Regions from separate parts of the Homo sapiens genome. Here all the other regions are linked to region 3. The links come from fine-mapping of genetic effects on gene expression. A gene starts in region 3. Each other region holds a variant in brackets. All regions are shown on one strand. Distances are from middle to middle.

The links. PIP is the estimated chance that this variant, and not a neighbour inherited with it, causes the effect. A credible set is the group of variants that fine-mapping cannot tell apart.
Region 1: its variant is the best candidate, but not a certain one, in a credible set for the expression of GPR160 in blood mononuclear cells (TOPMed, PIP 0.59).
Region 2: its variant is the best candidate, but not a certain one, in a credible set for the expression of GPR160 in whole blood (INTERVAL, PIP 0.57).

Annotation. Positions count from the first base shown.
Region 1 is chr3:170,005,599-170,008,356 of GRCh38, forward strand. No RefSeq gene overlaps it. Among named protein-coding and RNA genes, the nearest start is that of GPR160, 31 kb to the right of the region's middle. RefSeq lists an enhancer at 1,644-1,723. The variant T/C (reference allele first, on the strand shown) is at 1,650.
Region 2 is chr3:170,063,690-170,066,447 of GRCh38, forward strand. All of the region lies in intron 2 of GPR160 (G protein-coupled receptor 160), which reads left to right. Among named protein-coding and RNA genes, the nearest start is that of GPR160, 27 kb to the left of the region's middle. The variant C/T (reference allele first, on the strand shown) is at 1,067.
Region 3 is chr3:170,036,770-170,039,527 of GRCh38, forward strand. It overlaps GPR160 (G protein-coupled receptor 160), which reads left to right and starts at 1,226. Exons shown (of 4, transcript NM_014373.3): 1 at 1,226-1,446; 2 at 2,146-2,274. RefSeq lists silencers at 1,201-1,680, 1,991-2,040, 2,201-2,250 and an enhancer at 2,106-2,605.

The sequences.
Region 1 (2,758 bases), 31 kb before region 3:
GAAATATTTGAATGAGTACAAACTCACCCAACTGCTGAGCCAAATAACCTCTTTTCAGCCTTTATCCCACTTTATCCCTGCATCGTTCCTCACCATCAGCATCCAAACCTTCACCTCTCACCTTCTTAAAATTATCTCTTCCAAGCTTGGTGTGGTGGATCCCACCTGTAATCCCAACACTTTGAGAGGCTGAAGCAGGAGAATTGCTTGAGCCCAGGACTTCAAGACCAGCCTGGGCAACATAGTGAGACCCCCCCTCTCTCCCAAAAATAATTTTAAAATTAGCCTGGCATGGTGACATACACCTGTAGTCTCAGCTACTTCAGGAGGCTAAGGCAGAGGATAGCTTGAGCTCAGGAGGTCAAGGTTGCAGTGAGCCATGATCCTGCCACTGCACTCCAGTCTGAGTGACAAAGGGAGACCCTGTCTCAGAATAATAATAAAATAAAATTCTTTCTTCCTTCAGCATCCAGGACATGGCTTTTTTCCTGGTTCTTTTTTTTTTTTTACTTCTGGCCACTCCTTCTTCTCTATTTGCTCCTGAAACTTTGAGTCTCCAAAACTCCTTCCTTGGTACATGCTCATTTGAAACACTCCCTTGGGTAATTACATTCATTTCCTTTGCTTCAAATGTGACCCTCAATCTTTTGCTCCAACCTGGACTTTCACTATGAGTCTCAGTCCCATGGGCACCTCAATATTAACATGTCCAAATGGAACTTTAATGGAACTTTAATCTCCATCCCTGCAGGCCTGCTCCCCTTTCTGACCCTAAGTCACAGCTGACCCAGCTAAAAATTCAGTCATCCTGAGTCCCCACGCATGTATATTAGTCACCAAAGTCTCTTCACTCTACCTCAAAATTATCCTTTACTTACTAAAGTATGTTAAAAGTCTCTTGACTCTACCATCTTGCTTCTCAATTAGCTTAGACCTTTATGATCTCAGGAGGAGAGTGGTAGTAGGCGGGGTTGAGATGGGGTGGATGCAGGAATAACTAAGAAGATAAAGGATGCAAAGGTGGATTGTGGAGAGGGAGAGGACAGAATTTAGGGTGATCCCAGGTTTCTGGCCTGAGCAACTAGATGGACCAAAAGAAAACTGTGAGACTTTAGAAGAGCATCTAGTTTGGTAGTTCAGTGTTGAATATGTTATGTTAAAATGGGACAACCAGATGCAAATGTCCAGCAGGCCACTGATATATATAATAATGTGAAGGTGGGAGAAAGAACAGAATTAGAGCCTCCAGTTGTGGAGTCATCAGATCAACCATCAGCTGGTGGATAAAATCATGAAAGTGGTTGATATTAATAAGAAGGCCAAATAGAGAGGGAAGACTCTTGAGTCAAGGTTGGATCGTGGAGACATCATCATTTCAGAGCAGAGATAGAGAAGCACATCAGGAGGCTGGAGGAAAAACTCCGAGAGGTAAAAGCTAAGCAGGGAAAGCAGTGAGACCAGCCAATGGAGAAAGAGTCAAGAATGAAGCTACTAACAGTGGAGTCAAATGCAGCAGGGATTGCATTGGGCTTTGCGATATGGAGGTCAGTTTAGTGCTTGCAAGAGCAGTTTCATCAGAGGCTGGGGAAGAGCCAGACAGCAGCAAGGTCGAGAGTGAATGAACAGGAAGTGGTGAGATGTGAGCGCAA[T/C]CTTTCAAAATGCCTGGCTGAGAGGGGAAAGAGTAACAATGTAAGTAACTAGAGGGACAGCAGGATTAAAAGAGCCCCTTTTCTCAAGGGTAGGAATGACTTGAACTTGTTCGTGGTGATATTGAAAACCTGAATGCACACAAGAAGGAGAAGCTGGGGAGAGAAACTGAAGACACATGGAAAAAATGGACTGTGTTTGACTGATGGAACTGAGGCCAGAAGAGGTAGACTGAGAAAATCAAGAGTCCTATGTGGGAACTTGCCAGCGTCTGCATTTCAGAGGTCTTCAAGAGCTTCTTCTTTCTCTTTTCTTTCTATTTTAAAAGTTTAATGTTTTTTATTATATTCACGATTCAAAAATAAAAAATTATAAAAGGCGAAACATTTCTTTCTTACCCTGCATCTTCCCAGTTTCCCCTTCCACTTCACCCCCTTCCAGAGTTTCTTTTTTTTTTTGAGACAGAGTCTCACTCTGTCGCCCAGGCTGGAGTGCAGTGGTGCGATCTCAGCTCACTGCAACCTTCGCCTCTGGGTTCAAGTGATTCTTGTGCCTCAGCCTCCCTAGTAGCTGGGATTACAGGCGCCCACCACCATACCCACATAATTTTTGTATTTTTATTTATATTTTTTAATTTATTTTTTAATTATTTATATTTATTTATTTATTTGAGACAGAGTCTCGCTCTGTCGCCCAGGCTGGAATGCAGTGGCGTGATCTCGGCTCACTGCAAGCTCCATCTCCTGGGTTCACGCCATTCTCCTGCCTCAGCCTCCCAAGTAGCTGGGACTACAGGCGCCCGCTACCACGCCCACCTGATTTTTTGTATTTTTAATAGAGACGGGGTTTCACCATGTTAGCCAGGATGGTCTCGATCTACTGACCTCGTGATCTGCCCACCTCAGCCTCCCAAAGTGCTGGGATTACAGGCGGGAGCCACCGCGCCCAGCCAATTTTTGTATTTTTAATAGAGACGGGGTTTTGACATGTTGGGCAGGCTGGTCTCAAACTTCTGACCTCAGGTGATCCGACCGCCCTGGCCTCCCAAAGTGCTGGGATTACAGGCATGAGCCACCGTGCCCAGCCCAGAGTTTCTTTATGCACATATATT
Region 2 (2,758 bases), 27 kb after region 3:
TCTCCCAAAGGCCTGGACGGGATGGCTCCAAGCTCTTGTTCTCCTAACATCTGGACAGGCGCTCTTTGAAGTGTATGAATATATTTTTAAAAGATTGGGCAGTAAGCTTGTCTTCCCCGTGCTTTCTCGAAAGCTTACTGAGCTCGTGGCCCTGAGCGCGGGCCGGCATAGATTTCCTCTTCCACCCGCTGCGGCTTTTCTGAGCACCTGGAAGCATCGGGGTGTGAAGTCAAACCAGACGTGGGTGAGGAGAGTGTGGCTTGCCTTCCCTGCCGGGCAGAATTTCCTGAAACTGGGCTAATTCTTTGTAGAAATGTGAACGCTGAATTTATTAAAAAATAATAATAAAACACAGGAAACAACTTACATGTACATAGGTCTTGAAGTGAGTGAAGCGGCTGTATTTTTTTGGGGGGGGCATTGCTTTTGTTTTTGTAGAAGAGATTGAGATGATACTCTATTCTAATCAAAATTAGAGATTTGTAGTGGGACCAGAAATTACGTACTTAATACCCCTGCCAGTTTTCCCCGCGTCCTGCTGGGTTGAAAGTTCCAGAGCTGCCGTCTAGGCCTCGTGTTTGTCAGACACCCACGGCTCCTGCGAGGTCGCAGCCATGAGCTGGCGGGGGTGAGTACACAAGCCCAGATCCCCCAACCCGAACTGCGGCTGCCAGCCTCAGAGAAAGGCGCCCAGGTGTGCGGGCAGGGCCGAGACCCCCGGGAATCTAAGATAGGCCAAGGTTTTCACCTAGACTGTCAAGGCTGGAGGAGTAGGTGGCGGCCTCGACCCTCCCTACACGGGACCCATTCTTTTCTTTTCTTTTCTTTTTTTTTTTTTTTTTTTTTTGAGGCAGAGTCTCACTCTGTCGCCCAGGCTGGAGTACAGTGGCACAATCTCGGCTCGCTGCAATCTCCACCTCCCGCGTTAAAGCGATTCTTCTGCCTCAGCCTCCTGAGTAGCTGGGACTACAGGCACATGCCACCGCGCCTGGCTAATTTTTTGTATTTTTAGTAGAGACGGGGTTTCACCATGTTGGCCAGGCTGGTCTCAAACTCCTGATCTCGT[C/T]ATCCGCCCGCCTCGGCCTTCCAAAGTGCTGGGATTACAGGCGTGAACCACCGCACCCAGCTATGCAGGACCCATTCTTACTGAGTGAGACTCGGGAGTCATGACCTGGTGTCTCCTGCCCACCCTGGTCCCAGGTAAATCTGAATGGAAGCAGGTATGAGAGCCTGTCCTCGCCTTTGATTCCCCCACCCCACCCTGGGCCTCACAACGGTGCTACCTAAGAAAGTCTCTTCCCCCAGTCAGCCTGGTGAGTGGTCAGCCGAAGAGGATCTGACGGGAGTGTAGATGTGAGATAGTATCTTTGTTGTACCTGTTTGTGGTTTAGCTTTGTATTTAAACAAATGAGGAAATAAACTTGAAAATTATTTGTCATCATAAAGTTGAAACAAAAATTATTTTAAAAAATAAAGTTTTATTTTAAAATAAAATAGCTAATGAGTATCGTACATTACAATTACATTTCCTTTCTAAACTTTTTTGTTTTCCTTTCAGTTATCTGTCTGCTTTTTTTTCTATATACTTATCGCTAATTCAACCACAGACTCTTCTCTTTTGTGTAAATCTTTTGGTATGTTCAAAGATATTTGGAATTTCCACCTTCCTGGAGGAATTTCTCCCATAGCCATGTGCCCTACTCTAATTTAGATTGTGCACTCTGGATCTGATGCCTAGATAATCTTCACCAACCTCGGAATCCTCGAATTGTACTCTACATGGTTTTTCTTCTCTTCTAATGCATCCCATTTCCTGGACCGCATGTATTGCTCTCCTAGTTTATTATTCCTCATTCTGATGACGTATGCCTTTCTTTCATTGGCTTCCTAAGAACTTCATGTGAGTAAAACATTTTTGAGTATGTGGCTTCATTTTATACCTACACTTAATTGACCATTTAGTTTGGTGTAGAATTCTATGTTGGAAAGTTTCTTTCATGAAATATTAAAAAGCTTTTTAAAGTAAACTAAATACTTAAATTATTTGTGTAATTGAGAATTGTACCAATTTGTAGATAACTTGTTTTTTTCCTTACTCAATGTGTTTAATTTTTTGAATACTTAATACAGTCACATGTTTAGCAGAATGTTCATAGTAGGAAAAAAAATGTACTGAAGTCTTCATCTCATTCATGACCCCATCTGCCAAGTTCCTACCCCTGTAACCACTGTCTTTAACTTTTTTTTTTAAGAGATGGGGTCTCGCTATGTTGCCCAGACTATACTCAAACTACTGGGTTCAAGCAATCCTCCTGCCTCAGCCTCCTGAGTAGCTGGGATATAGGCATGCACACATGCCCAGTGCTCACTTTTTAAGTGTCCTTCCAGGGTTTCTTCATGTATATATAGAAGATTACTTGACACTATTCTTTTTCTTTTTCTTTTTTTTTTTTTTTTTTTTTTTTTTTTGTGACAGAGCCTCGCTCTGTCACCCAGGCTGGAGTCCAGTGGCACGATCTCGGCTCCCTGCAAGCTCTGCCTCCCGGGTTCACGCCATTCTCCTGCCTCAGCCTCCCGAGTAGCTGGGACTACAGGCGCCCATCACCACGCCCGGCTAATTTTTGGTATTTTTAGTAGAGACGGGTTTCACCATGTTAGCCAGGATGGTCTCAATCTCCTGACCTCATGATTCGCCCGCCTCGGCCTCCCAAAGTGCTGGGATTACAGGTGTGAGCCACCGCGCCTGGCCATTTCTCCC
Region 3 (2,758 bases):
ATTTTATTTTATTTTATTTGTTTCAGATGAAGTCTGTCTCTGTTGCCCAGGCTGGAGTGTAATGGCGTGATCTTGGTTCACTGCAACCTCTGCCTCCTGGGTTCAAGTCATTCTCCTGCCTCAGCCTCCCAAGTAGCTGGGACTACAGGCATGTGCCATTACGCCCAACTAATTTTTGTATTTTTAGTAGAGGCAGGGTTTCACCATGTTGGCCAGGCTGGTCTTGAACTCGTGACCTCAAGTGATCCACCCGCCTCGGCCTCCCAAAGTGCTGGGATTACAGGCTTGAGCCACTGCGCTGGCCTAATTGTTCGATATTTTAAATGTTTAAATGACCGGCAAGTCGTAGGTGCTCAACAAATATTTGTTGAATGACAACAAATTAGCACTGTTGACACAAAAAAGGCAATGCAATATATGGGCTATTTAATATTTGCAGATTTTTATTTAAAAATCTGAATTCACAGTACACTGCAGGCGGTTGCTTAGAAGCATACAAGTTTCAAGAAGTTCTGTCACCCTGTGTATACTCTTTTTTTTTTTTTTTTTTTTTTTTTTTTTTTTTTTTGATACGGAGTCTTGCTGTTGCTGCCCAGGCTGGAGTGCAGTGGTGCGGTCTTAGCTCACTGCAACCTCCGCCTCCTGGGTTCAAGCGATTCTCGTGCCTCAGCTTCCCAAATAGCTGGGATTACAGGTGCGTGCCACCAAGCCCGGCTAATTTTTGTATTTTTAGTAGACATGGGGACCAACGTGGACCATGTTGGCCAGGCTGGTCTCAAACTCCTGACCTCAAGTGATCCGCCCACCTTGACCTCCCAAAGTGCTAGGATTACAGGCATGAGCCACCGCCTGGCCACCCTGTGTAAACTCTTATCTGGAGACAACTGCCAAGTTTACATTTGCAGAGGTAAGGGAAGGAGAGGCCCTGACCCAGTGGCCCCCGCTCGCCCGCCTGCTGGGGAGATGGGGAGCTCCTAGGACAGGGGCCGGGTCCTCAAGATGTGGCATGAGGAAGGGGGTCTCACTGAGCCCCCAAGCGGCTCCCGCACTGCGCACCCCTGGCTGCGTCCCTCTGCCAGCCTCAACTCAGCCCTCTCCTAGCCGGCGGGGGGTGACAGTCTCTGTGATATCTTTCCGTCCCGCCGGCAGGCGGCGCCCTCCGGCCCTTGTTTCGTTGGGCCCGGACGGGACGTGCGCGCTCAAAGGTTGCCCGTCTCTGACGCCCGCATTTCCTGGTCTGGAGCCGGCTGAGCCACAGCAGGGTCGCCGCGGGGTCCCGGGGCCGTGCTCCCCTGCCCCTCCCGGGAGCGCGCGGGGCGGGGCGGGGCGGGGCGGGACCAGGCGGGCGAGCTGGGCCCTCGCCCCTCCCTCGGGCGGTCACCTGGGCACGGGCGCTGCAGGTGTCGGGGCCTCAACCTTGCGGAGCCGACAGCCATCGATCCTCGGGTGAGTGCGGGCGCAGGTGGAGGGCGCCCGGCGCTCTCGCCACCGGCGTCCCAGCCTCGGGGCGGCGAACGGTCCCCGCGCCGCTCCCAGCCTCCCTGGCCGGGCGTTCAGCGCGCCTGGGAGGGGAAGGAATTTCCTTTGCAGGAACTCAGGGGCTGGGGGTTCTCTGCTACTTAAGAGATCCAGGAGTGGAGCCCGGACGCCCGAGCCTTCCTGCTTCGGGATGGGGATTACCGCGGAGCCTTAGCAACTGGGGTCTGTCGTGGGTTTGAGGGCAGGGGGTCTGGGGAATGGGCGTGTCCCGCACCCAGAGACTCGCCACCCTCTCTCCAGGGGAGATGCTTTTTAAACATGACAAACCCAGCAAGGTTATAGAAATGGGTGTATGCAACTCTTCGCTCTTTCCTGGCGCCCAGAGGTGAATAGTCTCACACACACGCGCGCGCGCGCGCGTGCGTGCATTCATTGGGGCCGACTTTGCCTCCCCTCCCCTGGCCTCGAGCGTTGGGGACGGCGCCCCCGCCCGCGCCCGCCACTGGGATTAAGCCCCAGGGCCTTGCCCGGCTATTTGTTTTCCGAGGCCGTTGCGTCCGGGTAGGTTCCTGGATGACCATCCTGGCTGGCTCAAAATTCCCTCTAGATTACCTGCGACCACCCCCAGGAACCCGGAGACTGAAACTCCTTTTCTCACCTGCGCAGGTGGCCTCGAGGTGGTGGCAGGGCCGCCCCCTGCAGTCCGGAGACGAACGCACGGACCGGGCCTCCGGAGGCAGGTTCGGCTGGAAGGAACCGCTCTCGCTTCGTCCTACACTTGCGCAAATGTCTCCGGTAAGGGGAAGTGTCGCTTAAATCCCAGAGATAACCCCCACCGAGAAGCATCACAAAAGACATGAACGAGTGTTTAGCTCTCAGGATTGTTATTGCTTCGAGTGAAATGGTTTCTTGTGTGCTTTTGTGCATTTATATATAAATATAAACATATATGTATACATTTGACAAGCTCTAAGACCGGCACTTGTGATATCTCCAGAATAGAGTTATTATAGTTATTTGGAAATTGTCAGTGAGGATCAGCTTGGTTGCTATGCGAATTGCAGGGAGGAGGACCTGTGTGCAGTTTCAAAACGATTTAAGAGAAATTCGGTGGCAATACAAGGTGTGGACGTTGGTTGGATCCTGATTTGATGAATGTTTTTTAAAATGGAGATGATGCCCGAGTGCGGTGGCTCACACCTGTAATCCCAGCACTTTGGGAGGCCGAGGTGGGTGGATCACCTGAGGTCAGGGGTTCGAGACCAGCCTGGCCAACATG